Linked DNA regions of Homo sapiens. The protein of the gene in region 2 interacts with the protein of the main gene of each other region in a pairwise test. Each region holds a gene or a part of one and is shown on either strand. Other genes may lie near its edges.

Region 1 (9,258 bases), on a different chromosome or scaffold from region 2:
ACAACAAAAGTTGACTAATGACTATTACTAAAGCTGGCCATAAAATTGTGTATATTTTAATCAAATAAAACCATACTTTAGATTCCTCATAAGTAAGCGTGAGCGCACTAAATATACTTGCAATTAATAACTTAGCTCAAACATAAAAGGCACCGTACTTCAAAGTTAATTATTTTGACATATTGATGTTACATTTTATAAATGAATCTCTTTGTCAGTCTTTAAGTGCCTCTATCCTTAACACATTCGTTGGATAGATGGTAAAAGCATGGAGGAAGATTTCCTTCTCTTTTGCACTTATGGATGCACAGGTGTGGGAGTAACTCACCATCGTAGGTTGCATAGAGTGCGATCATTGTCACAGCTATGATGGTGAGGAGCAGGACAAGGACCGAGAGGCTGATCTCCAGTGGAGTCCATCGCTGTTTCTTCTTTGGCTTTGGAGTGTTGATATCAGTTATATCCATCTGACTTTCTGACTTGCCCATCACCTAAAATCTGCAAAAAATGAAAATACTAATAATGAAAAACAAATAAATAAAAAAGAAAATGTCCAAATGCTTAATGTGGCTGGATAAAAGTAAAAGGCTCAGTTATTTTAAAATAGAAATACATTTTTGCTGTTGAGAAGTCAAAATTTTGTTGCTGAATGCAAAGTATATAGAGCCAAATGAATTTGACAGGTCTCAGTCACAACCTTTTGTTTTTTGTTGCTGTTGTTTTGTTTTGTTTTGCTTTGGTATATCACTGAAAATCTCAGCAAAATTAGACAGTAAGACTTGGTTAAATACTCAAGTAGGATTAATTCAGCAGTTTATAAGCAAATAATTGCTGTACCATCATTAAGAAAGTTTTAAACTCACCCTTTTGAACTCTGGACTAACATCAATGGTTAATTTTATATCTTGCTCCAGTGGCTTCCTTTATAAGCTCAAAAACCAGTGACTAATACCTTGAGGTTTTGACTAAGCAATAATTTGAAATATTAATATAGATAAACAGCAAAACGAATGAACACATGAAGTAGTTTATTTTAGTCATAAAAACAACCTTTATTTTTACAGTTCAAAATTACTACTACTACTGATACCAGTATCTATTAACTGGTTAGACAACATTCTGAAAATGGTCACTCACTGTACCAAAAGATACCTGAATATCCAACCTAACCACGCCCAATCCCATTTAAGAGGGGAGTAAGGGGGATAAGTAAACAAAATAGTACAAAAAGTTACCAAGTTGATACTTGTAGTCCTGTATAAAGCAGGGTATGCAAAAACATACCTGTATTCCTAAAATCTTTCACCTCAACTGGAGATGTGTTAAAAACTTTAAACCAAAAAGTGGACACTGCCACAGAATAGAATAAAGAATTAGGAAACTGGGGCACAGAGAAGTCAGGCAACGTGTTCAAGACTACACAACTCGTCAATATTCTTTGTAAAGAACACATTTGGTCACTGTTCAAAATAAAGCTGTATCATCATGCAGTAAAAGCGTACTGTAGAAATTTAGGGGGAAAATTAAGGGGATATAAGCCTAAATATTAAATTTCATCAGGGGCCTAGTGACACTTTATCAGCCAGTCTCCAAGGATTAGAACACACAATTTCCATTTTTCTGCATGACTGTATAAAAGAACATCTTAAACTAGCAGATTAGCTGTTTATAGCTCAATACAAATTGCTCTTAGAATTTGGTCCCAGGATGAAGTGGCGGCTCAGAAATGCTCTTATAGTTAAAGATCTTTGTTGAACACACACAATTCTCTAAGGGTGTGTTTTGTGGAAACTGAGGCATAGGAGAAAGAAGAAACATATTCTACATTTGAAGTATGGTCTGGGAGACCCAGCAGAAAACTAGAAATTAACCTTCCCAGTGAATTATTAATAAGCGAACCACAGCTAGACCTTAAAGTTCTGGATACAAAGTCTTAAACATGCTGTCCCCTTGATTACATGAGGCTATAAGCAAGGACAGACTATCAAATAAAAATATTTTATTACACAATGAAAACCGTGTCTGCTAAATAAAAGTGGAATGTAATGTACCTGAATGTTAAAATGTCTTACTTAATGGTTATGTAAGGCATGCTGGCTTAGTCTCACCACCCCTGGGGTTATGATATGGAATTGCATTGATTGTAGTCCTATTTTAATAGTGTATTGGTTGGGCAAAGGAAAGAGGGGAACAAATTTAATAATACTCTGGACACTTTACAGAGAGGTAAACAATAATAATTCTCCCAGTCTCCCCATGTTTCATGACTGTCCTAAAGAACACCTGAATGTTAAGCACATTTGCTAAAGTATTTCCCTTTCCTGAATATTGTTCCCCCCGCATATGTCAGAAGACAATGTAGAGAAATGTTTTACTGGTATAAAAGGACTTTTTTTTTTCTTAGTTCTTCCTTAGAAATGACAGTCAGTGTCCCTGTAAAGTAAAGCGAAGGGGTGAACCAGGGCAGCCTCAGGGTTAAATTACAGGTGCTCTGTGGAAACTCCATGCCTTGTGGTGTAGTAAAGCTAGTGGATAAGCATTTCTTTCTCCCTGTAAGTTACTTTCCCTTGGCTTCTCCTCCTTACCCTTGAGACTGGGTACTGAAGCAGCTGGGCTCTTAATGGGTCAGCACCCAAGTTTGCAGAAACAGTTACAGAGAAATGAAGACAGTGACAGAAGCTGCATCAAAACAATATAATCTTTGAATCACCTGCAAAGTCTTCCTCCATCTCCCCCTCTTGTAAATGCCCTGTAAATTCTTAAAGGAAGTCTTTTGCTCTTAGTAGCCTTTTTTCAAAAGCATTGAGCAAAAGCAGAAATGATGCAAGTTTAATCTCCTAATTAACTTTGTCGTTCATTTCCAGTTAATTCTGGAAGGTTCACAATTTTTCTTTAAGACATCAGGGGACAGTATCTGGAATCTCACTGTGGAACATATGACTAAACCCCAAATACCTGAATATCCAACTTAACCACACCCAATCCCATAGAGAAGAGTAAGGGGGACAAGTAAACAAAAGAATACAAAAAAAAAAAAAATACCAAGTTGAGGCTTATAGTCCCATATAAAGCAGGGTACGCAAAAACATACCTGTATTCTTAAAATATTTCACTTCAACTGAAGATGTGTTAAATAAAAAGTTTAAACGGAAAAGTGGACACTGCCACAGACGAGAATAGAGAATTAGGAGGTCTAAGATAACAAGAACCTGCAAACTTCAGCTCGACAATATTACCAACAGAATAAATTACTATTTTAAGTGTAAGCTTAATTTCAAAGCAATGTAAAGCAGCAATTCTTATACCAGTTGAGCATAAGCATTACTATATCAGACAGTCAAAGCAGGAAACCTGGATAACTGATTTGTTAAAAAGGAAATCTCATTGACTTACAGACTTAGACTTAGCTAAGCAGTTTTCATCTTCACTGCACATTATAACATTAACTTATATCTGCAGGTTCCTGAAGCTGTGCTATGCAATTACAGTTTGTTCTATGGAAACTGAGGCACAGGAAGAAGGAGAAACAGTTTCCATATTTAAACTGTGTCTGCAGAAGCTGAGGACAGAGGTACTCAGGATAAATCATCTTCTTGTTTCCCAGACATTAATTAGGTGTTTCCCAGCCTGAAATACGGAGTTCTGGACACGAAGTGCCAACCATATTACTCCCCTGGTTAGTGCTGCTCTACAACCAAAGACACAGGGTTAAGTCCAAGAAATTACCAGACAATTTTTTAAAGTGCTAGAACCCACAAAAATGGCAGGGGATGAAGCTACACGCCTTCATACAGTCGATTTGCCGACAAGCACTTTCCAAATGCTGACGCTGCAAGTCAGGTACTAGTTTTCAGTTTAATAAAATTGCCATTTGAATCATATATGGGGGAGGAATCGACTTGATCGAGAAGCTAAAGAGGGATATTTGGTTGCAATTACCCTTATTTTGAAACCAGACAAATAGACTGAAACCAGTTAAGAGGTCTTAAACTTTCATCTACAAAAGGACACACCAGCCCCGCACCGACCAACCCTTGTGAGATTTAAGCATTAATTATATAATAGGAAATCAGGTTAAAAGCAAGATGAAGAGGTGGGATAATGAAAAGATCTTCCGGTTAAGAAAAGTAAAAATAGAAAAGTGAGTTACAAATGAGAAAATCCGACAGAAACCAAAATGAAAACAAACCTTGCTTTTTAAAAAGAAGAAAAAAAAATCAGTGTCTGTACAGCAGAATGGCAAATTCCCAGCCCCCAAATCAGCCCCGGTGCAATCTGGTAGCGCGGATCTCGGTAACAAAACATAACTCCCCAAGGCAGAGGCCGCAGGGAACTATGGAAATGAACCTGAAGAGCCAACCTGACGTGACTTCCAGAGCCCTCCTCCAGGTCACCCTCTGGGCCCCTCTCCCTCCCCTCACTCTTCAGGTCCCAGTAGCGGCTCCTTCCCAGGGCACGCCTCCTCCACGGCCGCAGGGTCCTGGGCGCTCGGATCGCGCTGGACCTTAGCTGCGGACCCTGCTCAGCGCACCTCCCGGCAGCCGCTCCCCTCGGCTGGCTCTGCCCTCCCCGTGCCCGTCCCACGGGCTCCCAGCGCCCTGGGCGCTCGCGCCCTTTGGACCTTTCTCCCTCAGCTCGCTCTCCTGGGACTCACCAGTGGGATTCGGGAGAAGTTGGAGGCTGCTGAGCCGACACATCCCGACCAATGAGCGCACGGGGCCGGGTGGCAGTGGCGGGCTGAGAGCCCAGCCAAGCGCCTCTCAGTCCGTGCATCCGCCCAAGGCGCGCGGGCTCCAGGCTGAGGCCGGACTTGGGGGAGGTTCCGGACCCGCCTCCGCCCGGGCCGTGGGGCGACGAGGCACCTGGGCATCCCTCCGACCCGCACCCACAGAGACTCACCGTGACCCCTCAGCAGATCCCGCGCCAGGAGTTGGGCGGCTGCTCCAGCCTGCTCTCGGTCAAGCTTCGCCACTTGCACATCTCCGCGCCCCGCGCGTCTCGGCGCTCTCACGGCCCACCCCCCCCACCCCCTACCCCGCCTCGCCGCTGCAGGACCAGAGAGAGGAGCAGTTCCCTGGGTGACCTGAAGGTTTCCGCTAGGTCTCCCAAATCCAGTCACTTCATGTGAGGGGGCCGGGGAGACGGGGGGCGGGCGGTGGCAATGAAAATGTCCCATCCTCCCCACCCCCCATCTCACCATTCCCAAAAGGGCTTTGCTAAACATTTTTAGAATTGCTTAGCTTCGGGGCTTTCAAGAAAACAATACACGGGCTCTTCGGGATTCTCTAGTCCTGAGGGGGCTCCATCTCTCCCCTGTGGACCGGAGACTATAATGCTTGCCTCTTCTCACGCTCTTCTTTCGCTCTCTTTCCCGCTCCCTTTCCTCCCTGAATCCAAGCTTCCTTCCTTCTTCATTTAAATGTCCTCTCTCCCTCCCTCCTTCGTTTTCTTTTTTCTTACTCTCCCTCCCCGTTTCCTTCTTTCCTTCCTTGCTCCTGCTTTCTCCACCCCGCTTCCCTCTTTCTTCCCTTTCTTTTCCTTGGTCGAAGTACTCTCATGTCAAGATCTGAACTGAAACTCTCCGCTCCCACCTCCTGACTTCAGGGAATCTTAAAACGTGTGTACATCGGAGGTTGAGGGTGGGGAGTGAGAAAGAGAAAAATAAACTAAAGTGTGTCTGCTCTACCTACTGAAATCAGCCGTAATGCGCCTGGACCCTCACAGTTTAATGCAAGCAAGCAGCGTACCCCTTTCACTCAAGACACAGCGATTCCTCCTCAAAGGGGTAAATACAAACAAGGAAATAAATACTTTAGGCACAAAGGCAGTTTCTTTGTAAAAGCTACCTTTAGCAGCTATAATTGCCAAGGAGCTCAGAGGAACTAAACTTCCTTTTTTTTTTGCTTCCAGTGTACAAGTACCTTTAATACTGATCCCTTTCCTCTTTTGAATCACAGGTAATTACACACACACACACACACACACACACACACACATACACACACATATTCACACTCCACTGCGGAATTCATACTGAAATAAAACTGGGTTTGCAATTATCTGTTTTTAATATCAAAATGATTTGCTGCTTGAGAAGAGTCCCCTTGTGCTAAAAAATTTTCCATCTTTTTCATAGCAGAGAAAGCTGAAAAGCAAGGAGAAAAGGTAGTTCATCCTAATAAGTGGAATACAATGGAGAGACATTTCCCCAAAAAGCTAACCAATCTTTAAATAATTCGATTAATATAGAGGAAAAATGGAGTGTGTAGACCTAACAAGTGCTATTGACGTCTATTTACGCTTTCTCTGTGCATCTTACAGACACTATTTAGTCCTCACAACAATCCCGAAATATTGGTGTTTTCACTCCCACAAATAAGCATGCGGGGCTTGACTAGCGCCCTGGAAAGCATCTCAACTGGAATTTTTTTTTCCTACAGAGTCTCGTGCTGTCGCCCAGGCTGGAGTGCAGTGGTGTGATCTCTGCCTCCTGGGTTCAAGCGATTCTCCTGCCTCAGCCTCCTGAGCAACTGGAAATACAGGCACGCACCACCACACCGAGCTAATTTTGCTTGCGTGTGTGTGTGTGTGTGTGTGTGTGTGTGTGTGTACTTTTACTTTCGGGGTTTCTCCATATTGGCCAGGCTGGTCTCAAACTCCTGGCCTCAAGTGATCTACACACCTCGGTCTCCCAAAGTGCTGGAATTACAGGTGTTAGCAATCATGCCTGGCGGTGAGGACTCTTTTAAAGGAAAAAAAAGGATTTACTTAAAATGTATGACAAAAGAAAAAAAAAATGCCTACTTAGAGTTAATTTTAGACTCTGACTTTCAGCTGATAGTCGACAGTATGGATTGGTAACTGGTTTCCCAGAACAAATATTTTTTTCTTTTTCTCTTTTCTTTCTGTTTTTTGTTGTTGTTGCTGTTGTTCGTTTTTTTTTGTTTAGATGAGGGTCTGACTGTGTTGCCCAGGCTGGTCTCTAACTCTGGGCTCAAGCAATCCTTCAGCCTCAGCCTCTTAAGTAGCTTGGACTACCCACATCTCCCTTACAATATCTTGATTTCATTAAAGTTGATTAGAAACTTAGGGTTTTTGTTGTTGTTGTTTGTTTGTTTGTTTTTAAATCAAGAATGCTAAATCTCCTCCCAGAAGTTTGTGCAAGTTTGAGATAATTTTTTTAAGGGATCTTAAAGAGTCCCCAACTATTTACAGTAAGTAAATTTAGACAACTGAGGCTTACTGAGGTGGTCCAAGATCACTCAGTTTGGCCACTTATAGGAATGGAGGAGAAAGTAGCCCTCCTGGTGGCCATACATAAGTTATTAAGAATGGAATGCATTGGTTCTAGCAGTTTGCAGAATGGATCCTTAAAAACCACTGTGTGTGACACAAATGCTTGATGAATTTTTTTAAGTCCTTTAAAAATGCTATAGTGCATTTTTATATGCACCATTGAGCCAGCAGGCAAGTAAAAGAAAATCTTAGAAGCCAAAAACAAAGAGAGCTGTCAGAGGCATTTGGACCAGAGCAACTCCATCTTGAATAGGGGCCGGGTAAAATAAGGCTGAGACCTGCTGGGCTGAATTCCCAGGAGGTGAGACCTTCTTAGTCATACGATGATGTAGGAGGTCGGTTGGCACAAGGTATAGGTCAGAAAGACTGTGCTGATGAAACAGGATACTGTAAAGAAGCCAGCCAAAACCTACCAAAACCAAGATGGCCATGAAAGTGACCGCTGGTGGTCCTCACTGCTCATTATATGTAAATTTTAATGTATTAGCATGCTAAAAGACACTACCACCAGTGCTATGACAGTTTACAAATGCTATAGCAACATCCAGAAGTTAACCTATATAGTTTAAAAAGGGGAGGGACCCTCAGTTCCAGGAAATCTCTGCCCCTTTCCCTGAAAACTCATGAATAATCTACCCCTTGTTTGGCATATAATGAAGAAATAACTGTAAGTTTACTCAGTCAAGCCGCCTATGCTGCTGCTGTGCCTATAGAGTAGCCATTCTTTATTCCTTTACTTTCCTAATAAACTTGATTTCACTTTATGGATTCATTCTGAATTCTTTCTTGCAAGAGGTCCAAGAACCCTCTTTTGGGGTCTGGATCAAGATGTCTTTCTTGTAATACCGACAAAAAAATCAAGAAGGATATGTGAGTGCTGAAAACAGTAGCTGTCCTGGTGGTATCTATCCATTTCAAGAGGCCTCACTGGACTTAAGCGACCTAGAGCTTTCACTTTAACAGGACTTGCAAGTGCCAAGGGACTTCATACAAAGTGTAGTCCAGGGCAAAGTGAAAATGTGGGCTAACAAAAAATGAAACTCAGCCCCAACTCCGACTCCTCACCCCTACTCTTCCACAAGAAACATAGATATACTTGCTTTTTTCAGTCCTGACTCAGGCTGGTAAACTTACAACAAAAACTTTCTGTAAGAATTCATGATTTGGCCAGACTTCAAATGGATGTAGGAATAGAATTTATACTAATTGTGTAGCCTGAGTATTTCCAAGTTAAAGATCTATGGTAAAGTAGTCCAAGCTAGACTGTTCAAAATAAAAATTGAAAAACTTCCCACCACTGACTGTAACCAAAGGAACTTCTTGAGAATGAATTTAGGAAGCAAAATAATAGTTTATGGAAGATCTGATATGTGAGAAAGAATGATAAGCAAAGAATATAGTAACAACATAAATAAATCTAAGCAAACATTAACAAAAATAAAAGAATGGTGATAAAAAAGATCAACTAAAAAACCAGACAACGGGGTGTGTAAGCTGGGAGAGTTTAATTAGAATTAAAGCACTCTGAAGTCTTTACTCAATCAGGCCTGGTGGTGTGCACCTGTAGTCCCAGCTACTCAGGAGGCTGAGGCAGGAAAATCACTTGAGCCCAAGTTTGAGACCAGCCTGAGCAACATAGTGAGACCCTGGCTAAATAAATAAAATGAAGTCCTTACTTATGTTGTTGGAAAGAAGGATAATGATATTGATTAATTATATACTTTAGACTTTATTAGGTTAATTATGTATGTAAAAAGTACTAATACAACCACAAAAAAGATAAAAATAGAGTGCATAAGGTCAAGTTTTGCAGAAAGAAAAAACAAAATTAAACATAAGTCAATCTAAAGGAGGACAGAAAAATAAAAAGTATTAGAGAAGAACATATAGGAAGTATAACATAAAATGCTAGAAATAAATCAAAATATATTAATTGCAATAAATATAATTGGACCAAATTCT
Region 2 (8,836 bases):
GCAAATATGCGTGAAATGGATTATACCTTATACCATCATTAGCAAGTTACAAAGGAGATACACTGTTGAGCAAGAAAGACAGTAGGCACTGGCAGGTGGGGATCAGGTTCACTGAAAGGTACTGGGAGAGAAGAAAGAAGCACGGACAGAAAAGCTGGGAAGGCAAAGAGAAACTTCGCCTACTTCTTGACTGTGCCTAGGGCTGACTTTGGCCATGTCACTCAAAATCACCTTATGAGCCACAAGAGGCAGACCCCTGATTTACACAGTCCATCCAGCAAGTATGACCAGCACATACCTGACAAAATAAAAATGAGCCACAGTACACAAATGAAAAAAGTTTTGACTATACAGTTATAAAATCAGGAGAGGCCTTAAGAAAATCATCAACACACAAGGGCTTTGCAGATTTACCCCCAATCAGAGCATGAACAGAACTTGCACCGGCCCTGTGAACTCTACGTGTTTATCATCAGGTTTTTACTCTATGTCTCCTGTAACACAATTTAACCCACTGTGAATTGGAAACCATGTAGCGGCAAATTGTTATAATGGGGTTCTAATGAATATTAGAGATTAGCAGCTATAAGTCTAGGAACAGATAAAGTTACTGAGTAAAATGCTTAGTTTGTACCTGAAGTATATCCAGGACCGCGTCTGCCGTGCCCCCTATTTCTGTAAGGTCTACTACCTCGACCCATTCCTTGACCATCATCAGTCACATAGCTTTTTTCCTTATCTGTACGATTTGGTGGTGGTCTAGAACTAGCTCCAATCTGTCGCAACTGCTCATCAATTTGTAATCTCTCCAAACGCAACTGGTCTACTTCCTATTTAAAATATACAAGATAACAGTAAAAATAATTTGACATTTTACTTAATAAAACCTTTCTCCTTTTCATCAGATAAAAATATACTGGAATATTTCAATTTCAGTTCTAAATTTACAGTAAACACTGTTACACAGAATTATCAGGAAATTGAATGATCTCCTTAAAAAGAAAATTACTACAGATAACAGATTATTGATGTCAAGAATTAGAGATATAACAAAAACACTCAGCAGTAAAATTATACTGAATAAAATTTAAAGTTGTCTAATTTGGCACTATTATCCAATTATTCTACTGCTAAGGCACAGATATGCTATTTTGGGGACTTCTTCATGATAGGATATTAAATAAAACATGCTAAAATGTATGAATATAGATAAATGACATTCAAGGTATAACCAGCTAACCTTAAAAATCACACATTGTAAATAATCTTGATTAAAATAGATTTGCCAGTTAATATCTTAATTTACAAAGCATTGAGTTTGGGCCATCTTTTGTTTTAAAAGAACATATACTATGGTTAAGGAACAATGATTTTTTCATCAACTGAAAATGCTGACTATTCCTCATGAGGGGAAAACAAAACTATTTAATAGCTGACCAGACAGCTAGGTCTTACATCATGCCTTGAAAACTTCCTAAAGACTACAACTCTGCTACAACAAGTACGAGAAACAGTATACATTTAGTTGATAGAAATATACACCTGGGGTCCAATGACAGACCCTTACAAAAAGCACTTCCAGTATGTTGGGTTCTGTTAAAACCAGATGAAACCTCATTTCTAACCACTGTCCTTCCAATCCACTCATAAACATCTCATTTACTGGCTACGGGGAATCAGATTCATAACTATAGTAGTAGTAGGCGTCTCAGTGAAGCAGAGGTTATCATAGAGACTGTCTACATGAACAGTCATTGGAGAAGCTCCTGTAAAGCTAAGTTTCTAAAATCTTGGTTGTGGCAGCTTCTGGAAAAGAAAGGTCAGGTAAGGATTTGGTCCGTTTCATCTGTGCTCTGCCATCATTAGCAATTTACATAGTTACACCAGAATCTGTTTTACATAGAATTTGAGCAAAGGAGAGACTGCAGCTGAGTGAGTGACTTCCTCCAAAGGTATAGTAATAGCTCATGGAATAGGAATATCTTGCAAAACAGAAGAGTAGTCCAGGTTATCCCACTGGGGCAAAGCAGTCACCTTTTGGTGAGAGATGCCAGGCCCAAACGAGGGAAGTTCTGGTGATGGAAAGAATGGCAACAGGGCAGCTGCTGATAACCAAAGAAGATATTCTTGAGAATAAATCAAAGGATCTAAGAAAGAACATTAGTCAAAAGAACAAGGGATTTGATACAATGCAATCCTAACTCTCCAGGCCTTCATGATGATTTAAGCTAATTACGAGAGAGACACACACACAGAGAGATTACACATAAACATACTTAAAAAAAAATCAAAGAGGTATCCTACCCATGTAAACCTTGCTGGATGAAACCTTTCCACTTTTAATTAACTGGCCACCATAAGAATGAATGGCATGCCCAGTATTACACTTTTTCTTCCTTTCATTCTTATTTACACACAAGCAGAAATCATGTACTTTTTATTTCTTTCAAGAAATCAGCAAAAAAATTCTTAATGCCATAAATAGAGTTGAAATGCTTTTTAAAAACATTTAATACCAGCTACATTATAATTTTGATATGTATGGATACAAATAAAACATTATGAAAATGAAGTAGATCAGTTTCCATTTCATTAAAGTATAGAACATTTTGGCCAAAAGGAATTTCAAGAAGCATCTAGTGTAGGGAAGTGACTTGCCTAAAGTCACACAGCTAGTTCATTTGCTGAAGTCTTATAAGTAAATTGCTGCATTGCCCATCCAGTGCTTGCTCCACTACACCTTGTAGCCTCCTCGTTCCTATCTTCCAGTTTGAAATTTTAAGGAGGCATAACCGCATCACACTAACTAAACTGAACATTTATGAGAAGACACAAATAGTTTGTATTTTGAATAACAGTAAAGAGAAAAATAGGGTAAACATTTAAACAAAGAACTTCATGAAATGCTTAGATTTCCTTGATAAATGACATAAAAGGAACAATAAAGGCAAGAGTTATAGACACAGATTTTTGTCTGGAAAAAACCAAAATGCTAGAAAGGATCAAATGGATTAACAGGCTATGTACAGGATTGCCTAAACTGAGTGTAAGGGTTTAAGAGAAGAATAAAGGGAAGTATAAAATTTTATTGAAAACTGGTATATTGGTACTTAAATTTATAAAGACTTCCATTTTTAAAAAAATTATAAGCCAAACAACGTATTTTCTCTATTACCTTTGACAAGTCATACAGTGTTTTGCACAGGCTAGAATGAGTCCTAACTGCTGAAAGATCTACTATAAAGTTTGTATATTTTAGTACAAAAGGATTAGAAGTTAAAGTTCTTTCTGTTCTCACCTTTAAATAGTTCAGGTGATAATCCAAAAGAACAGTGGCATTAGCGATGCTGTCCTTTGTTCCCACAAAAACAAATGGTACCATACCCTGAAAAAGAAATTGCAACAATGATCCTATAAAAGTAATGATAGATTAATCTGAAAAATGCAAATAACGACTAATTCCCTAGCACAGGATCTGGTGAACAGCAGGTATACAAATGTTTGCTGTAAATATAAATCAATATATGAAAACAAAAGTAGTTGATATACTACTTTACACATCTACTGTGAATACGAATAGATCAATAGCAACCTTTTAAACGTATCAGATTATTATAAAGACTAGTATTCAGTATCAGCAAAATCACAAAATGTATAATTCAAAATTATACAAGCTTTACCATGAGATGTATAAACAAAATGAGTAGTATAAGATGCTCTAATTCATTTATGAAAGGCTTTATCCTGATCAAAATTTTTTCTTTTTTTTTTTTCTTTTTTGTTTTTTTTTTTTTTTTTTTGAGACGGAGTCTCGCTCTGTCGCCCAGGCTGGAGTGCAGTGGCGGGATCTCGGCTCACTGCAAGCTCCACCTCCCGGGTTCACGCCATTCTCCTGCCTCAGCCTCCCAAGTAGCTGGGACTACAGGCACCCGCCACTACGCCCGGCTAATGTTTTGTTTTTTTAGTAGAGACAGGGTTTCACTGTTTTAGCTGGGATGGTCTCGATCTCCTGACCTCGTGATCCGCCCGCCTCCGCCTCTTTTTTTTTTTTTTTTTTTGAGACAGGGTCTTTTTATTCTGTTATCCAGGCTGGAGTGCAGTGGCATGATAATGGCTCGCTGTAGCCTCGACCTCCCCAGGCCCTAGGTGTTCCTCCCACCTCAGCCTCCTGGATAGCTGGGACAACACGTGCATGCCATCATACCCAGCTAAATTTTTGTACTTTCTGTAGAGACGGGGTTTCGCCACATTGCCCAGGCTGGTCTCGAATTCCTGGGCTCAGGCGATCTGCCTGCCTTGGCCTCCCAAAGTGTCGGGACTACAGGCATGAGCCATCGCGCCTGGCCGATCAAATTCTTAAAAAAAAAATCAAAATGAAATACCAAGGGTACAAAAGTAAAAAGTAAATCATTTCTGCTAACCAAGTAAATAGAGTACACACAAAATACAAACAAAAACATCAGGATAAAAATGCACTGAATAATCTGTGAGACAAAAAAATAGGTACATTGACAAGCATTAAGTTTTATCAAGCCCATACACATTTCAATAATGTACTCTGAAAATTTTAAAAGGCTGAATCACAAGGAAAGTTTGAACTTCTCTCTATGGACACTACTTAACATAAGAACAGATTTTTAAAAGGCATATGCTAAATGTCTGTACTCCTAGCCCATATATATATATATTAAGAGGGAAAAAAAAAACAACTACTTCTTGTCACAAGTTATAGGGAAACCTAGAAACAATTGTGCAAATTAATAACTGGCAATTCATTTCTGCATGTTGGGTTTTTCTCCAACAAGCTTTATTTGTTACAAAAGCCTTTAACTGTATTATTTCCCAAAATACCATGTGATGGAATGAATGCTACACCCTTCCCTCTGGGTCAAATATCACCAAAATAGCTTTAAAATCCTATGTAACAGATTTAGTTAGATTGACTTCGGAGCAAATTATTTACGAATATCTTTTCTTGCAACATGTCTAAACTGCTGGAGTACCCCAAGGGCCACTCTAATTTAAGCACTTCACGAGTAGACCTGAATAGTAAATTAAAATGAAGAAAGGCAAGAATGGAATGATGGCCTTTAGTACGGACCCCAGAAAAAAGTTACTCTGTGTTCTGGAATAATGGGCTGCCCGGCAATGAGACATATCCAATCCACTTGCCGTTATAGTCCTCTTTGTAAAATGGCACCTTTGCTTTTAATCCATGAGTCCACAACATTTTTTTCCATAAACAGTTCTCACCAGCTCTCCCTGCCCTCAAAGAACTTACAATGTGGTTGAGGAGATCAACAAATAAACATCTATGTTTAAGTGCTATGCTAGGGGTGAGCACATTGCAAAACAGAAGGGGAAGGCTCTTGAACCAGTCAAGGGGGTGGGGATCTTCGGCAAGTACACAAGGAAAGCTTTGTAAGGAATAAGGTCAAAATGAGGTGACATGTGGAGGAGAAAAAGCATTCCAGGCAGAGTAAACCTGTACATATGTCTAGAAGCAAAATAAGCACGAGAATGTTCAGAGAACTCAAAGTACTTCAGTATGGCTTAAGGTTCTCTAGAGTGCAAGGGAGAAGATAATTTAAAGATGATAACTAGACAAGTAATTAGGAAAAGCCTTACAAGCGGCATGAAGGTGTTTAAGCTTTAACTCCAGGGCAATGGATCCACATACCCACAAACACTCCTCCCTCCAGTCCCTAATCCTGAGGATCATTTGTAATCTTTGTTAACAAGGGGAATAAACATTAAAATATAAACTGAAAGTGTATTTCTCAAGGAATGTTTTCCTACCTGCCAAGCCTTGAGTTCAGGTTTCTGGGATTCCCCTGCTACAACTGATGAAGCCACTAACACCTAAAGCAGTATAAGGAATGCAAGGGATGTCATTAACTATAACAAACGATACACAGAAGCCTGAACGCAGGACTTTCACTGCAGGACTTTTAAACCCATTTCTAAACAGATTAGTTCAAACAGAGAAAATTAGTTTCTAAAATATGGTTCAAGTAGTAACTAATGCAACTAACAGAAGGTGTATTTTGAGCTACGATACCTGCAAAATTTAAAGAGAGAAGGCATGGAAAAAAGAGAGTCCACTGTCAAAAGAAAAATGTGACCACTAAATGCAACCCCATTATTTTGTGTTTATGGCATAAGAGTTGTTACTGTGAATAAATTGAAAAGTATGTATCACACTAATTTGTAGTATCTCATAAGCTGGCAATTACATTTGGAAAAAAAATAGAACATAAGTAGCCTACAAGTCTAACCAGAGAAAACATCCAAAATACCAATTGTGACATCTGAGACAAATTACTTGTATTGTAATTCAAAGTGACAAGTAATTCTTACCCTCTGGACTTTTGTACTGTTAGGTTGAGAAAAATGGGTGCTGTTTTCCTTTATATCTAAATGTTTTTTTTCTTCTGGGGCATTAGGTCCAACCCTTGAATTATTGGAAGGAAGGGAATTTGGTGGCATAATTTCCTTGGTAAAAAACAGAAAACACAAAAGAGAAAAAAAGGACCAATTTAAGACTTTATTTAGCTCTATTAGTGTTATCAATCATCATATTTTTAAAAAATGTAAGTTATTATAAACAGTTTTGGTTTATAAAATTACCGAATACAAATTGTACGCAGAAAAAAAAGATTTAACTTTAGCTAAAAGAATCTTTCAAAAAGAAAGCTAGACAATATGTGAAAATTACGGCTCTTTGATGAGACAGTATCTTAAGAGTACTATTGCACAGAAAGGTGCATCCTCACCTCTCTACCCCATGCAAATACTTTAAAAGCTGCTACAAAAAGCATATATTTATGAAGATAAAAGGGTTACAGAATTTAAAGGTAAGGAGGATGGGGAAGAGATATTAAGCACAGAAATAAATTTAAAGCACACAGAATAAACACACATACTACACAATCCCCACACTAAAAAAGTGAAAAGATGAAAGCCAGAAAACCTGTGTTCCAATTTTGCTTTTGTCAGCAACATTAACATTTACAAAGTGCTTTACGAAGCATTTACATATATATTATTTTATTAAATTGCCATTAACACTCGACCCAGTGATGTATGTCTCATATTTAAAAATTTATAACTACCCATTTTAAAGATCAGGAAAAAAGAATTCAATAAAGTGACTAATCCAAACTCACTGCATTAGAGGACAGAGAAGGGCCATTATCTACAATTATAACATTAATTACAGCAGGCATGCTTGATAATCAGAATATTTGCATTCACTTTATGCACATATTAGAGGTCCTCAACATATCACATAAAAAACTTTTACTTTTATTATATGTGCCACAAAATATTCGCACTGTAACATACCTCTTCTTGTGGAACATTTTTCTCATTTTCAGCCTCAATCCTCACCCTCACAACTCCTGACTTGTCCACAATCTCCTGAATCAGCTTTCCATTTTTTCCTATTACTTTGCCTAAGAAATAAATAAATCAAGTTTGGTTTTAAAAACACATACCTCAAAGCAGTAAGCACAGCCCTACTGTAAACTATTACATTCATATAGATAGATATTTTTATGTGTATGTGTATGTATTGAATTGTAAGATTTCAAAACCAAAGTAGAGACTCTTTTCAACAAGATGGTTAATCTGGTTTTCTGTTTAATTAGGACATCATTGTTTAAACTCCTTTGGTCAGGTACCAGAGTTGATTAATACTTGCAAACTGATAGGGTAATTTTGGATTTTTAAGGCAGTTCAAAGATAACCTCTTATTTTTGCACAAAAGGGTACGCTTTAAACTTGCTGGTACTGTGGTATGTATCATTCTTTCTGCAAAGTTCTATAAGAATTAAGAAAAAAGTAGAGAGAATGGGAAATATATTCACTTATTCAACACTTTCAATTCTTGTCTGTACCTGATTTAAATCTGCTTCTTTGTCCATGGTAAATATTTTCAGAATTCTGTATGGAAGGCACATTTATAAAAGATAATCTAAGTCTGAAAGTGGCTTAAGCAGCTATACATACATCCAAAAGGAATACAAATTCTTCAAGGTCAATGTGTTAACAGAGTATCACTCCTGTGCATTACTTACAAACTTTAGCAATGTATTAAAAAGTGAAGGGATTAGTCACAGAGTAAAAGATTAAGAAAACCCACTTTAAGATAACTCAAAACCACAATGAAAAAGCTTTAAACCAATTTAAGTATTTTTCAGTAACATCTATTAAAACTTGGGATTTCAAGTACCAGTAAAAAATAGGTACTTGATCATTTCCTTATTTATTTTACAATCATATACATTACTGGAAAATGACTGCTTTCATTTGCATCATGACACGAGTGGTAAAGCAAGACATTACAAACTTAAGAATTACTAATTCTGGAAATGTACATGTGAACTACATCTGATTCTGAGGGCTCACCCAAGGTACCTAAGTACCCTTACATTGGCCACATCCACCATGTGCTTGCCCTCACCATCTCATCTTCCATTTTTTCCTTTTCGCCTTTAAAGGCAAAGCTCAAGGCAAAGTTGGGGGAAAAGATGGAAGCAAAAATTTGCTTTGAGCCAATGCTAGATAAGAACTCAGTGAAAAGCCTTCTCACAAAAAATTCTTGTGGCTCTTGTAATCAGAGCATAGCTTTGACATTCTTGCTGTGTGTGGCTGCCTCATTCACCCCTAGAAACTCTTTGACTGGTCATAGAACAGATCTGACACCATTAAATCAGGATTCTTGGTCTAGGTCCTTCTGTCAATTATTTCTGTTCTTCTATAACGAAAAGGGGAAAGGTGAGGTGAGAGAAGCTACTTGGAGTCTTCACACAGTTTGATTTTAAACTGCAAC
Region 3 (8,836 bases), on a different chromosome or scaffold from region 2:
GAAGATTGTAACTTCAGGCCACAGACTCTGTTTCAACCCCACCCCCCATCTCCTTCTTCCCTCCCTGTTGTGACCCAGCCCGCCTTCCTCCTGCCTTCACCTACCTGCTTGGTGATGGAGGGCTTCAGCCCCCCACCCCCTCCGCCACCGCTGCCCCCGCTGCCCCCAATGCTGCCCTCCTTGCTGAGGCTCTGTTGCCGTGGACGGGCGGGGCCATAACTTGGCTCTGGGGACTGCAATAGATTCCCGCTGGATGGCCGGGGTTTCTGGGCTGCGCTGACTGTCAACTGCTGAGACTTGCCCCTCTGCAATGGAGGCGGCTGGCCCCCGCCACCCCCACCGCTGCCCCCACCGCTCCCACCTCCAGGCCCTGAGGGGGCTGGCCTCTGGGGACCAATGGTGATCTGGGGAGGGGACAGCATGTGCTGCAGGTTGTCCTGGAGTGAAAGCTGCCGACGGGTGAAGTCAGTGCCAGAGGGTCCAAACTCATCACTGTAGCTGTGGCTATGAAGGATGGAGGCAGCAGGGGGCTTGGGGACCCCGGAAGAGAGGTCCTCACTCTTGCTATAGCCATGGAATGGGGCAAAGGTGTCCCCAGGGGGCTCTCCACCTCGGTGGTGGTGATGGTGGTGGTGGTGGTGATGGGAGGAAGGTGGGCCATGGCCACCGCCCCCTCCATGGCCGCCTGGGGGACCTGGCCCATCAGCAGCCATGTGGAAGAGAGGGTTCTGGAAGGAGAGGGGGATTCGCAGTTGCTGGGCAGGGACACCGTCTGTGGTGACACCCATCTGGCTGAGGCGCATGCCAGCCGCCGTGATGGATGAGCCACTCCCCTGGGAGAGGCGTCCGGCAGGCGCAGGCCGTAGCCCCAAGGCTGCTGTCAGCGAGGCCTGGCTTGAGTGCAGCAGGTCCCCTACGGCCGCCAGGTTCGAAACACTGCTGCTGTTGAGGCGGCCACCAGGCCCATCACCCTGTAAGTCCAGCATGGACACACTCTTGTTGACACTCAGCATCTTCTGCTCTGGCTCTGTGATGTCCGAGCTGCTCGTGCAGTATGCTGGTGAGGAACGGGCCAGGGGTGGACGGCTTACATAGAACAGGTCTTTACCACCACCAGGCGGTGGTGGGGGTGGCTTTTCCTTGGTTGGGGAGGGGAGGCGAGCCATGTCCATAGAGCTGTCAGAAGGGAAGGGGGCACACAAGCAGAAGGTAAGGTCAGGGCTCCTAGCAATTGAACCTTGCTGTGGTCTGGCACAGGCCTTGGGGTGAAAAGTGGGACCCAGAGGGAAGGGCTGAGAGCTAGCGGTGGCAGCCCTGAAGAGGGCAGGCAGGGAGGATGGGAGGGGACAGGTGAGTAAAGGGAAAGGACAGGGCCCCTCCGGGAAGGGGGTGAGGCCTAGAGGAGGGGAGATGGGGGCAGCAAGAGAAGGGATGGGGGCAGGGCTGGGCACATATGGAGGAGATGAGGTCCATGGAGGAGGAGAGGAGAGGAGTAGGGCGAAGGCCAGTGGAGTGGGAGAGGGAACAGACAGGAGAGGAGAGGAGGGCGGGGGAGGGGAGAGCCCCTCACCTGTTGAGGCCTCGAGCCATGAAGGACTGAAGGTCGATGGAGCTGGAGAGAGATGGAAAGAGGGGCGAGCACAGACAGAGAAGGAGAGAGATGTGGACAAATGAAAGGAGAGGCGGGAATGGTGGGATGGGTATGGTGTCATGGAGGAAGACACGGGCAGAGGAAAAAGCAGGGCCATCATCAAAATAATGAGCAGCAAATGAAGCACGGGCACCACCTATCAGAATGGAGGCTGGGACTCTGGAGCAGGCTGCAGGCCCTGCTAGGCTTCTGCTGTCACTGCTCTAAGTGCTGGATCATGGGGAGGTCTGTGGGGTTGTGGTCGGGGGCTGGGGGAAGTGCTTATTCACTAGCTATTACTGAGATGTTTGAACATTTTGACACATGGCTGACATGACATGCTGGCTGAACCTCAGCCTGGGGACTAGCATGGGCAGGCAGAGGGACAGCAAATCAGAGCTTGCAGCAGGGATGCTCTAGGCTTACAACTAAGCCGTGAGTTGGTGGAGCCTCAGCCCTATTCCTAGAGCTCCAAATCTCTCACTCCCTCAGGCTGTAAAGGGCTCTCAGCCTACCACTGACTGTACCTGTCTCCTTATCGTCTCCCCTGAGAACTTGGTGCTTTTTCCTCCCTTCTTTCAAGCCCTAGAGAGATGCATGTGGGGCCCAGTGAGGAGTATCTAGAATAGGAGAAGGGCTCCTAGGGCACAGGCCTGGCTGTCCCAGGGTGCTCACCTGTTGAGGTCCCGCATCATGTAGCCCTGCATCTCAGCCGATGGCCCCCGCAGTACCACAGGCTGAGGCCGGGGCCGCTCACTCTGGCGGCTTGGCTGCCTTTGGATGTTGGGGTTCCTCAGAGCTGTGCTGATGTCGTTGAGGAGCCGGGGCAGTGGACCCAGCTTCAGGAGGGCTTCCTGGAAGGGTGAGGCTGTTACCTGGGGGCTCAGTGCCCAGCTCTAAGAGGGCCTCTGAGGGTGCAGGTGGAGGGGGCCTGAGTTGGGATAGTAGTGGTGACACCTCGAGAAACAAGGGGAGAAAAAAAATCTTCAAAGGGTAGTTTCTCAGGCTCCAGGAACCTCTGGAGCCATCTGGGGATAGGGCAAAGAGGGGATCTGCTGACCTTGCTGAGCTGGGGCAGCACCTCCCAGAGTAGGGCATGCAGTGTGGAGAGCTCTCGGCCCAAGTCGATGTAACCCTCAAAGCTACTGCTGTTGGTTAGCGTGTCCAGATTGGAGATCTCATACAAAAACTGCTGCATGGAACCCCATTCCAGCTCCAGAAACTCATTCATGAAGCCCAGAAAGTCCTCCTTTGAGGTAAACCTAGCCAAGAATGCAGAAGATAAAGGTCACATACACACACACACACACACACACACACATACACACACATACACACACACACAAGGTATCATAGCCTCCCCATCTCAGGATCTCTGGGGACTCAGGAGACCCTTCTTGCCGACCCCCAGCCCTGCCACTCCCTGCCCTGCCACTCCCTGCCCTGCCCACTCCTGAAGCTTCCCTCACTTGGAAAAGTTGGCCAGGTTCTGGATGACCTTGGCAATGAGGGTGAGGGTTCGTGAGGTCTGCTCATCTGGGTACTCCTGCATAAGCCCAAAGAGACTGGGCGACATAATCGCTGGGCAGAGGAAGCGCAGGAAGAGTGAGGCGCTGATAAGCCTGTCTGCGATGTCCTCCCGGCCTCGCTCTGCGCAGCGCAGCCGCCACGAAGCAAACACCTCCTTCAGCTCCCTCGGGAACACGCTGGGGGGAAGGGTCGGGGAGACAGAGAGAGAGAGAGAGAAAGAGAGAGACCGGGACTGAGCCCCAGAGACCCTCAGCTTCCAGGGAACATGCTGAGGGGGGTGGTAGGAGGTGAGGGTGTGGAAACAGGGGTGAGAGAGACAGGGAAGGAGGGACCGCAGGAGCAAGATGGGAGGCTGCTTGAAGAAGGGGGCCATGGCAGAGGGAACAGACAGATTAGGGAGAGAGAAATGGAGGGGGAGAGAAGGTGAGGGGAGAGACACGTGGGAGAGAGATGGAGGGGTGTGGGAGAGAGACAAGGAGAGGAGGAGAAGAAAAACAGACACCAGGGAGAGACAGAGATGGGAGAGAGATGGAGGGTCACTTGAGGTACAGGGAGCTCGGACCCCCCAACTCTTCTGGATTCCAGGGAAATGGGGATGGAGGTGCCCCAGGCATGATCCCCAGTCCCTGGAATGGCTCAGAGCTCACTCCCCGCACCTCCCAGTTCCACTTCAATGTCCCACTGACACCTTAAACTCGGCTGGTGTAAAGCAGAGCTCACCATCGCCCCCACACCTCCAACTGGCTCCTCCTCCTGACTTTCCTGGTTGTCAATGAGGCCACCGGTCTCCCAACCACCAGCCTCATGGCCTCTTGAGTCATCCGTGACTCCCCACAGACATGCTCCCTCCTTTCCAATAAGCTGACAATTCCTACTGATCCTTTCCCGAGAGGGTCCTTCCAGTAGCTCCTTCCTAACTTCTGTCACTGTTCTGATTCAGGATCTGACTTTCATGCCTCCGAGCCCCCAGCTGGCTCTATTCCAGTCATCCCCCAACATACATCCCTCTACTCTACTACATACACTCTACTTATGGATTAATTTTTTTTTTTTGAGATGGAGTTTCACTCTTGTTGCCCAGGCTAGAGTGCAATCGTGTGATCTCGGCTCACTACAACCTCCACCTCCCAGATTCAAGTGATTCTCCTGCCTTAGCCTCCCGAATAGCTGGGATTACAGGCATGTGCCACCACATCTGGCTAATTTTGTATTTTTAGTAGAGACAGGGTTTCTCCATGTTGGTCAGCCTGGTCTCAAACTCCTGACCTCAGGTGGTCTGCCCGCCTCAGCCTCCCAAAGTGCTGGTATTACAGGTGTGAGCCACCGTGCCCAGCCTATGGATTAATCTTCTAAATCACAATATTTCTGACACCTTTAATGGCATCCCAAGGCCTACCAATGACCTCAGACTCCTTGAGGCCTTCCAGTTTCTAAAGCTAATCTTCCTGCCCAGACATCTCTCCCGCCACTCCCCATTATGAGGCACATGCTCCACTAAACCTGATGTAATTGCTACTAACCTACTTTAATGTCCCCTGAAAACTCCTGGGCCTTTTCACCATCACACATGTGCCTTTCTCACAGCCTTCTTCTGAAATGTCTTTCTTGCCAACTATGTCCATATATCAGAACCTAAACCAGTCTTCAAAGCCTACCCAAGGGGGCACCTCTTCCCCACTTATCTCAAAGCTCTGCCTTCTCTCTGACCTTATGTCACACAGAGGTTGGGGGGACCCTTACTCAGCACTTACACACCATTATGGCTCTGTGGCTTTTTTTTTTTTTCTTCTAATTTGTCCCCATTCTGGTGGAGGCCCTCTGAGGGCAGGGACCAGGCCTCTTTCACCTGTTTGCTCTATAGCGCCTAGAACAATGCTTTGCCCATAAATGGTGCTCAGTCCTCTTTGAGGATGGACAGATAGATGAACAGATGAACACATAATTCCCCCGACCCTGGCCCCCCAGCCCAGCGTTCCCAGTCTCACCAGTGGGAGTTGACCACCTTGCACAGGGCCAACTCACAGCACATTCGCAGGTTGGCCTGGTGCTCTGCCAAACTGGATGCTGTGCACTTGATAGGGTCTACCTCGCAGTTTTCCTCAGATTCATACAGAGCACGGATGAATTCTCCTGGGGGGTGGGGGCACAAGAGGGTGTGGTCACACTTTCCAAGGGCAGGGAAGGGGGTGGCCAGGGTTGGGGAAATTTCAGAATCAGGTGTTGGAGGCTGGAGTCCTAGGACTCTGGGTTAGGAAGTATCAAGCTGTGGAAGGGTGGACTTGGGGTCTGGGGTGGACATCTGGCAGGTTTGGGAAGAAGAGGGCCTGAGTGTGGGCCATACCAATGGCATCCTTGAGGTATTTCTGACCAATCAGTCTCATATACTCTTCTATGGCTTTAGTGGCAAGCGTGTTCTCGCGGAATATGAGGTGCTCCCGTTCCATGAACCGGTCTACCTCAGACATGGCCATGTCTGAAAGGAAGTCCTGAGGCCCAGGAAAATCCAAGTGTCAGCCTCTGCACAACCCAATCTCGTGAATTTGCCCTGTCCTCACTAACCCCCAAGCAAGTGCCCATTCCCAAGTCACCTTTCCCTGAGGGCACAACACTCACCTTGGCCTTGCCTGTACTCTGCAGGATGTGAACTAGTGCACTGGCAACCTCCTCCTTGCCTTTGACATTCAGGGCGGGCTCCAAGACTGCACACAGCATCCGATAATGGTTGGTGACATACTCTGCAAACTCTTTATATAGCTCCATGGGCAAGATGCTCATTGTCTGGTAACGTGCTTTCAGCCGCACAGCCGGGCAACCTCCTTTGCCCTTGCCCCCTGAGCCACCCCCCGAGCCCCCTCCCCCTCCCGAACCCATGCCCCCAGATCCCCCACTGCCTGTTGGCAGGGTTACAGGGTACCACTGCTCTGTGAAGTGGCGCCCAGCCAGGGTGGCCACTGGCACAGTCACCAGGCCGACATAGCCTGCCTTGTCCTTCTTGCGCTTTTTGTCTGAGTCACGGTACAGATGCAGCCGCAGGGCACGGACAGCCGGCAGGTTGTTAAACTCGAAGTGCTCGCCCCAGAAGACGGTGTCCCCAGAGGCAGAGCGGGGCTTGGAGGTGGTGCGTGCATACAGCATGTCATCCAGGCAGAGCTCACAGTAGTACCGCTTCTTGGGGGGCAGCTCCCGGGCCTCTATGATCCACAGCTTTAGCACATTGTCTACCCGGCGGCTGTTGTCCTGGCATGGTGGGGTGGGCATGATGTTAAAGGGGGAAGGGACAGAGAGACACCAAAAGAGGAGAGACAGTAAGAAAGTGGGATACAGACAGCAATCATAAGGTGAGACGGTGTACTGGGTTGAATAGTATCCCACCAAAACTCATGTCTACCCTGAACCTGTGAATGTGATCTTATTTGGAAACAGGATCCCTGCAAATGTAATCAAACTAAGAAGAGGCCAGCCATGGTATCTCATTCCTGTAATCCCAGCACTTTGGGAGGCCGAGGTGGGTGGATTGCCTGAGGTCAGGAGTTCGAGCCAGCCTGGCCAACATAGTGAAACCCCGTCTCTAATAAAAATACAAAAACAAATTAGCTGGGCATAGTGGCACGTGCCTGTAATCCCAGCTACTCAGGAGGCTGAGGCAGGAGAATCACTTGAACCTGGAAGGCGGAGGTTGCAGTGAGCTGAGCTCATGCCATTGCACTCCAAGCCTGGGAAACAAGAGCGATATTCCATCTCAAAAAAAAGAGGCCATACTGAATTAGAGTGGACCCTTAACCCACCTTATAAAAACTGGTGTCTTTATATGGAGAGGGAGATTTGGAGACACAGAGATACAGGATACAGAGACACACAGAAGGAAGCCAGCTACATGAAGATGGAGGCAGAAATTAGACGGATGCAGTTATAAGCCCAGGAATGCCAAGGACTGCTGGCAACCTCCGGAAGCTAGGAAGAGGCAAGGAAGGATTCCCTGCTACAGCATCAAAGAGAGCGTGGCCCTGCTGATACCTTGCTTTTGGACTTCCAGCCTCCTGAACTGTGAGAGAATAAATTTCTGTTGTTTTACGTGACCCAGTTTGTAGCAGTTTGTTATAGCAGCCCCAGGAAGCTACTGTAGAAGCGTAGACATACACTAGACAACACAAACAGTATTGGAAAGATTTCAAAAGCTGGAATAACAAGCCAAAAATATTAATGTAGAATTTGAAGGGAACTGGAAAGTCCTGCAGAGACTATCAGAAATTGTGAAAAAAGAATTGCATATAGAATGGGTAAAGCTTGGCCAGATGTGGTGGCTCATGCCTGTAATCCTAGCACTTTGGGAGGCTGAGGCAGGCAGACAACCTGAGGTCAGGAGTTTGAGACTAGCCTGGCCAACATGGTGAAACCTCGTCTCTACTAAAAATACAAAAATTAGTCGGGTGTGGTGGTGCATGCCTGTAATCCCAGCTACTGGGGAGGCTGAGGCACAGGAATTGCTTAAACCCAGGAGGCGGAGGTTGCAGTGAGCCAAGATCACGCCACTGCACTCCAGCCTGGGTGACAGAGTGAGACTCTGTCTCAAAAAAAAAAAAAAAAGAATCAGTAAGGGCCTGGGGGGATACAATTGAGCACAAGCTAATGGTAAGGCTCAGGTGATATTGCAGTGTGTTGAAAGGGAACATGGTGTTTGTACTCTGCATAGGTCAGATCATGTCAGCATCTTGGGTTGAGTTCTTTAAGGACATCAAGACACAAGAGTTCCCCCCAGAGGAGTGTGACTAGGACTGTAAGCTTGCTAGAAACTGGGATACAGAGAATAGCTGACAGAACTGGAAGCATGAAGTTTTGGGAAGAACAGACTCATAGAATTTATGTGCCAAAGGGACCTTAGAGATCATTTAATCCAACCCATTGCCACCAGTTCCCTCTGTCTTAGAGAGGAAACCAAGGTACAGAAACTTGGCTAAGTGTATTTGATGTGTCCTGCGGGGTATTAGTGAAGCATTCCTGCCTGCAGGGAAGCTAGACTAAAGAATTTCCAGAGCCCCATCAACTCTGTAAGTCTATGACTTCTATGGCAGGGAAAGAGATCGTAAGGCAGGGTAGCAGTACAGAAAGCGAAAAGAAATGGGGGACTCAGAATAATGGGGGTCTCCCCCTGCTTGTCCAGATACACTGTACCTCAATCCTCTCCTTCCCCAAGCCTCTCCTCCTTTAACTCACTTTCCTCCCTAGGCCCCCAGCTTCCCGTGTTGGTGCAACCTTTGCCCTGCACAGGTTGTGTCCCCTTTATTCCCCAATACCTTGTTGGGCTTTACTGCCCGCTGCAGATTCTCAATCCATTTGTCTCTTTCGGCCGCAGACCGACAGGCAAAGCATTTTGTTCCTGATGAAGTTGTTACCTAGAAAGGAGTGTGGAGTTGAGGGAAAGGGCTACAGAGGGGAGGAGACTCTGCTACCTTCTCTTCCTCCCTGGCCTACCCTTTCCTCCAGTCCCAGAAGTTTCTGTTTCCTTGATGTCCCCACCTGTGCCACTTTCTCTAGACCTCTCTGCCCCCCACCTTCCATCACCCCTGTCCTTTGGCCCTCCCCAGCCCACCAGACCCAGTACCTCAAAACAGAACTCCTGGCCCAGGATGGAGCTGTGCACTGGCTTGATAATGGAATCTTCATCCAAGTTGAGCTCCA
Region 4 (4,748 bases), on a different chromosome or scaffold from region 2:
GACATCCTGGCTGTCGTGCCTTGCAGTAGGTACATTACTAACCCTCTTTCCAGAGGACAGGGAGTTGGAGGCAGAGGGACTTGCCCACGACCGCAGGTGGTCACAGGTGGACGTGGTGTGAGCCCAGGGCTCTGTGCGCTGAGTCCTGACTGTAACTTTCAGCCCTGAGGCTCAGGTCCACCGGAGCTAATGACATAGCGACTTTTTCTTTTCCTGGACAGGACAAATCACCACTAGAGGCACACAGGGGAGGTGTTCAGAGCCAGCGCCGAGTGGCCTCCGAGCAGTGAGCTCCCCCGTGGAAAGGCAATTGGGGGTGCTCCTTCTGGAGCGTATCGAGGAACTGCTCAAGTTAAAAAACCGAAACCTAAGTGTGACTTCAAGTATTCTGGAATTCGCTTTCCGTGATTAAGCCGTCCCTTCCCCAGTGGGTTTGAATTCAGGTTTGCTGTGAGTGGTAAGGCCTGAGCCTCCATCTCCCGCTGCGTCCTCACCCTGTTCCACATTAAGGCCAAGGGCGTCACGCTGCCAGGCAGTCGTGGTTTGGCTCAGGGCCTGGAGGAATCCATGTCTCTGATCCCTCACAGCCATGTGGCCTCAGAGGCTTGCTGGTGGCCTTTTTTTTTTTTGGAGACAAGGTCTCGCTCTGTTACCCAGGCTGGAGTGCAGTGGTGCGATCACAGTTCACTGCAGCCTTGACCTCCTGGGCTCAAGTAATTCTCCCACCCCAGCCTCCTGAACAGCTGGGACTACAGGTGTGTGCCACCACACCCAGGTAATTTGTGTAGAAATGGGGTCTTGCTACGTTGCCCAGGCTGGTCTTAAACTCCCAGGCTCAAGCAATCCTCCCACCTCAGCCTCCCAAAGCACTGGGGTTACAGGCGTGAGCCACCATGCCCAGCCTGGGTCTCACTTTCTCTAACGTAGCGGAGAACTTTGTGAGACTAGAACAACACACACAGCAGCCCCTGATGCCTGGCAGATGCTCAGGACTCACTGGCCTCTCGGCCCGCACACAAACCCGCATCCATCACCCACGTGCCCACAGGCCCAGCGCCAGCCAGCAGCAGCTGGAAACCAAACCTTGTCCCAAAGCGGCTAAGACAGGTCTTTGCATTTTTAAAGAGAAAAAAATAATAATAAACTCTTTTGAGACGTGAGGATGCTATACAATTCCAATTTCAGGGTCTGGCGAGAAAATTACTTGAGGGATGGGCGTGGTGGCTCGTGCCTGTAATTGCAGCGCTTTGGGAGGCCGAGACAGGAGGATTGTCTGAGCTCAGCAGTTCGAGATCAGCCTCAGCAACACTGCAAGACCCCATCTCTATTTTAATTTTGTAAAAGGTATTTTGGCCCATTTTACACATGGTCTGTGATGCTTTCCAGCAACAGTGGCAGAGCTGAGAAGCGTGACAGGGACCACATGGCCCACAGAGCCCATGGGAGTGACGCTGGGCACCTCACAGCACTGGCCGGCCCTGCGGTGGCAATTCCAATCCGTCCTCTGCAGGACAGCCAGGCGGCCTGCCAGCTCTCAGTTCTGCTCACCGGGACCTGCACAGAGCAGATGCCCCAAGCCGTGCACTGCGGAGGCAGAGGCCGGGCCATATGTATCAAAAGCTGTGTTTAATGATCAGACGGAATGGCAGCAAGGCCACACGGACAGACGGAGCCAAGGACAGGACCGCCGCCTCTGAACCCCTCCCCACTGGTCAAACGTCCAACACCAAAAAAGAGACGTCCCCACCCCGTCCCCATGTACAAAATGGCTTCAGTGAAGGCGCCATTACTCCCTGGGAAGCTGGTATTTTTTGTAAGGGATCAGGGCTCACCCCTGCCACCCTCTGTCCGGAACAGACCCGTGAGAGCGCAGCGCTCAGCAGTCCCCGTGTGCAGCTGGGGACGACTGACTTGACAGAAACAGATTCTGGACTCGAGTCTGGAGGCCGCACTCAACAGGGCGGGTGGCGGGCGGGAGCTGGGGCCCAGGCACCACAGACAGCCAGGGTGCGGGCTCTGTCTCTGCGGCCACAGGGAGCGCTGCTTCGGAAGTGACCACGTGCAGCGAGGGGAGGATGCCGGGGCCTGGGGCCACGCCTCGGTCAGTTCCCGCACGGACGTCTCTGCCCTGGAGTCAGGAGGACCCCATCAGTGAGTAGACCATGCCAGTGGCAGATGTCCTCGTGGGTTCCAGAAGCTCCTAGCTGCTGGGTCCAGAGGGTTAAGAACCCAGGCACCAATGCCGCTGCCACAGGGAGAACCGAGGCCCAAGCCCCTCTCAGCAGAAAAGCAACACGGGGCCCACACGGGAAGCGAGGTTGGGTGCCGGGAGCTACCAGGACCTCCCACGACCCAGTCCCTCCCTCCCAGGGCTCCAGGGACCCCTGAGGGCCTGACCCAGCCTGCCTGGCGCCCACCCCTGCTTGTCAGAAGGGCAGTCTGAGAGACGTCCACCCCACCAGGTGGCACCAGCAGGACTTCTAGAAGTTGCGACCATTTATTAAAATGGGGAGGAGTGTGCAGGCATGGCCAGGCACCTCTGGCTGAGGGCAGGGCAGGGCCTTAGCCAGGGGAGCAGCTTGTCCACTTACTGCCAGCCTTGTTCACGCCCCAAAACCCCGCCCCACGGGCCTGTCTCAGCCAGCGTCAGGGGCCAGAGGCCGCCCCGGCCACTGGTCCGTGTCCTAGGCTTGGAGGCAGCTTCCAAACCTCCCAGGGGCTCCGATCTGCTCAAGAGGGAAAAGCGATGCCTTCTGGGAGACAGAAAGCTGCTCTTCCACCCGGAGAGCAGGATGCCGTGGGGAGGGAGGTCACCTGAAGGCCGAAGCAGCTGGTGAGCACCAAGTGTGGCCGCGGCCAGAGTCCACCCACGCCTGCTCACTCATGCAGACGACGCTTGAGGGTCTGCAGAGAGGCCGGGCAGGGCCTGCGAGGACGGACCCCGGTGGGGAGGATGGACCCGCAGAGAGCTTGTGGCAGCCGGGCGAGCTGGGAGCAGCAGGCGTGCAGCCGGGGCAGCTGGGCTGGGCGCGGGCACAGACCGCAGGGGTCTCGGCAAGGATGAGCACCATGTTGGGGCGGGTGGGGACGGCACAGGCCTCGGTCCCGGGGGACAGGCGTCTGTCTGTCTGTCTCCAGTGGGCGCCAGGCAGCCCCAACATCTTGGTGTGGCGGGCACGGCAGCGAGCGTCTCACCCCTCCCCTAGGCCGAGGCGCCAGGCTGGGTTACCGGGGACGGCTGGGCCTGGTCCCGGCCCTCGGATTCAGCTGGGCTCCCAGGCTCCCGCATGGGGGCTCCAGCCCCCATCTCCTCGGACGTGCGTGATTTTGGGGACTGCTCAGCAGGCCAGGGGGATGTGGCTGGTTCTTCGCTGGGCGGCTGCGGGGAGAGTGGCGTGGCAGAGTCTTTGGGAGGCTGCGGGCCGTCGGCTGGTGCTGGGGCCCACGGAGATGGAGGTAGGACTTTCTACAGGAGAAGGGAGGCAGAGGTGAGGCGGAGACAGGGACCCAGAGGAGGACCCTGGCAGGGGCCAGGACACCCAGCACCCGCAGGCCACGGGGGCAGGGTCAAAATGAGGCGCCATCCCCAGGGGCTCTGGACCCAAGGAGGGGGCCGGCTCCATAACCTACGGGCACCCAGGACCCTGTCCATCGGCACAGGTGCCGCGGGAGGGCCATCCGAGGCCAGCAGAGGCTGGGAGCTGTGCAAAGCCTCTCCAAAGAAAAGCCTGGACTACCGTCTCTCGCCCCTGGGCCTGGTCCCCGGCTTCTCCTGAACCTTCTGAAATGCCCATCAGAATGGGGAGACCTTTGGGGTGGGGGTGCTGGCCCCAGGAGACTTCTCCCTGGGGCCTGGTCTCAGGCCATGGTCCCATCTGTGGGACCCATGAGCCCAGCTCGGCACTGGAACCACAGCTCGACCCAATGCATCACACCAGTGCGGCAGGGACGGGTGTGGTTTAACCTCCACAAAAACATGACGTAGGACCCCATGCGCGGCCAGCACCGCTGAGAAGCGCGGCATCTCCCCCAGAGGGAGATCAGCTATGGGAGGAGCTGCACCCATGCCCAACAGCCTGAGGATCGCCCTATGGCGCAGGGCTGCTCCCTGGGCGGTCATGGACTCCAAGAGGCGCTGCCCGGAGGGGCGGGGGCAGCTCTCGGGCGCAATGCGCCTGAGTCCCGGGAACCCAGGAAGTCACCTGAGCGGCACACTGGAAGGGGGGGTCCCACCCACTCCTGTTCACAAAAAATCACAAGAGCAGAACCGACGTGGCGTAAGCCCTCCCTGCATCTCACGTTTAACCCTTGCCAACCACCCCCTGCCTTGCCAAGGGGGACAGGGGACAGGGCTTCCACAGCCAGGGCAGGCCTGCTCCCCTCGTCCAGGGCCCTGCGGCCCCACCCCCAGTCAGGCGCCTCGCTCTCGGCAGGAGAGGCGATGGATGCCCGATGCCCACGCAGGTGGGGCACTACTATTTGGGAGAAGCAACTTTAGAAAGGACATGGCACCCCCGAGTCCCAGCCGGCACCCCCGCGTCCCACCCGGCACCCCTGGGCCCCACCCGGCACCCCCGCGTCCCACCCGGCACCCCCGGGCCCCACCTGGCACCCCCGCATCCCACCCGGCACAGGAGCTGCACGCACGTCCTTCCACCGGGGCCTCACGCGCATGACACCCAAAGCAGAAGGTACCAGGACCCTGAGCCCCGTCGCGGCCGCAGGGCTGGCTGTGGCTGGAGGTCTCA

What was found.
Region 1: the proteins of FMR1 (region 2) and MME interact in binary tests that used the Homo sapiens proteins (3 or more experiments, as listed by UniProt).
Region 3: the proteins of FMR1 (region 2) and SYNGAP1 interact in binary tests that used the Homo sapiens proteins (3 or more experiments, as listed by UniProt).
Region 4: the proteins of FMR1 (region 2) and SPPL2B interact in binary tests that used the Homo sapiens proteins (3 or more experiments, as listed by UniProt).

What each region holds. Positions count from the first base shown.
Region 1 is NC_000003.12:155,075,398-155,084,655, reverse strand, and holds the start of MME (neprilysin), read right to left. Parts: upstream 4,338-9,258; 5' UTR 4,190-4,337; exon of another isoform or gene 614-4,189; intron 499-613; 5' UTR 489-498; coding exon 329-488; intron 1-328. UniProt on the Homo sapiens protein: Thermolysin-like specificity, but is almost confined on acting on polypeptides of up to 30 amino acids. Biologically important in the destruction of opioid peptides such as Met- and Leu-enkephalins by cleavage of a Gly-Phe bond.
Region 2 is NC_000023.11:147,935,125-147,943,960, reverse strand, and holds part of FMR1 (fragile X messenger ribonucleoprotein 1), read right to left. Parts: intron 7,458-8,836; coding exon 7,348-7,457; intron 6,496-7,347; coding exon 6,361-6,495; intron 5,863-6,360; coding exon 5,800-5,862; intron 3,386-5,799; coding exon 3,299-3,385; intron 831-3,298; coding exon 635-830; intron 1-634.
Region 3 is NC_000006.12:33,435,229-33,444,064, reverse strand, and holds part of SYNGAP1 (ras/Rap GTPase-activating protein SynGAP), read right to left. Parts: coding exon 8,760-8,836; intron 8,551-8,759; coding exon 8,452-8,550; intron 6,703-8,451; exon of another isoform or gene 6,584-6,702; intron 6,398-6,583; coding exon 5,774-6,397; intron 5,735-5,773; exon of another isoform or gene 5,647-5,734; coding exon 5,502-5,646; intron 5,291-5,501; coding exon 5,146-5,290; intron 3,337-5,145; coding exon 3,100-3,336; intron 2,893-3,099; coding exon 2,691-2,892; intron 2,485-2,690; coding exon 2,306-2,484; intron 1,613-2,305; coding exon 1,571-1,612; intron 1,177-1,570; coding exon 105-1,176; intron 1-104. UniProt on the Homo sapiens protein: Major constituent of the PSD essential for postsynaptic signaling. Inhibitory regulator of the Ras-cAMP pathway.
Region 4 is NC_000019.10:2,351,664-2,356,411, reverse strand, and holds the end of SPPL2B (signal peptide peptidase-like 2B isoform 2 precursor), read right to left. Parts: intron 3,467-4,748; coding exon 3,203-3,466; 3' UTR 1,317-3,202; downstream 1-1,316. UniProt on the Homo sapiens protein: Intramembrane-cleaving aspartic protease (I-CLiP) that cleaves type II membrane signal peptides in the hydrophobic plane of the membrane. Functions in ITM2B and TNF processing.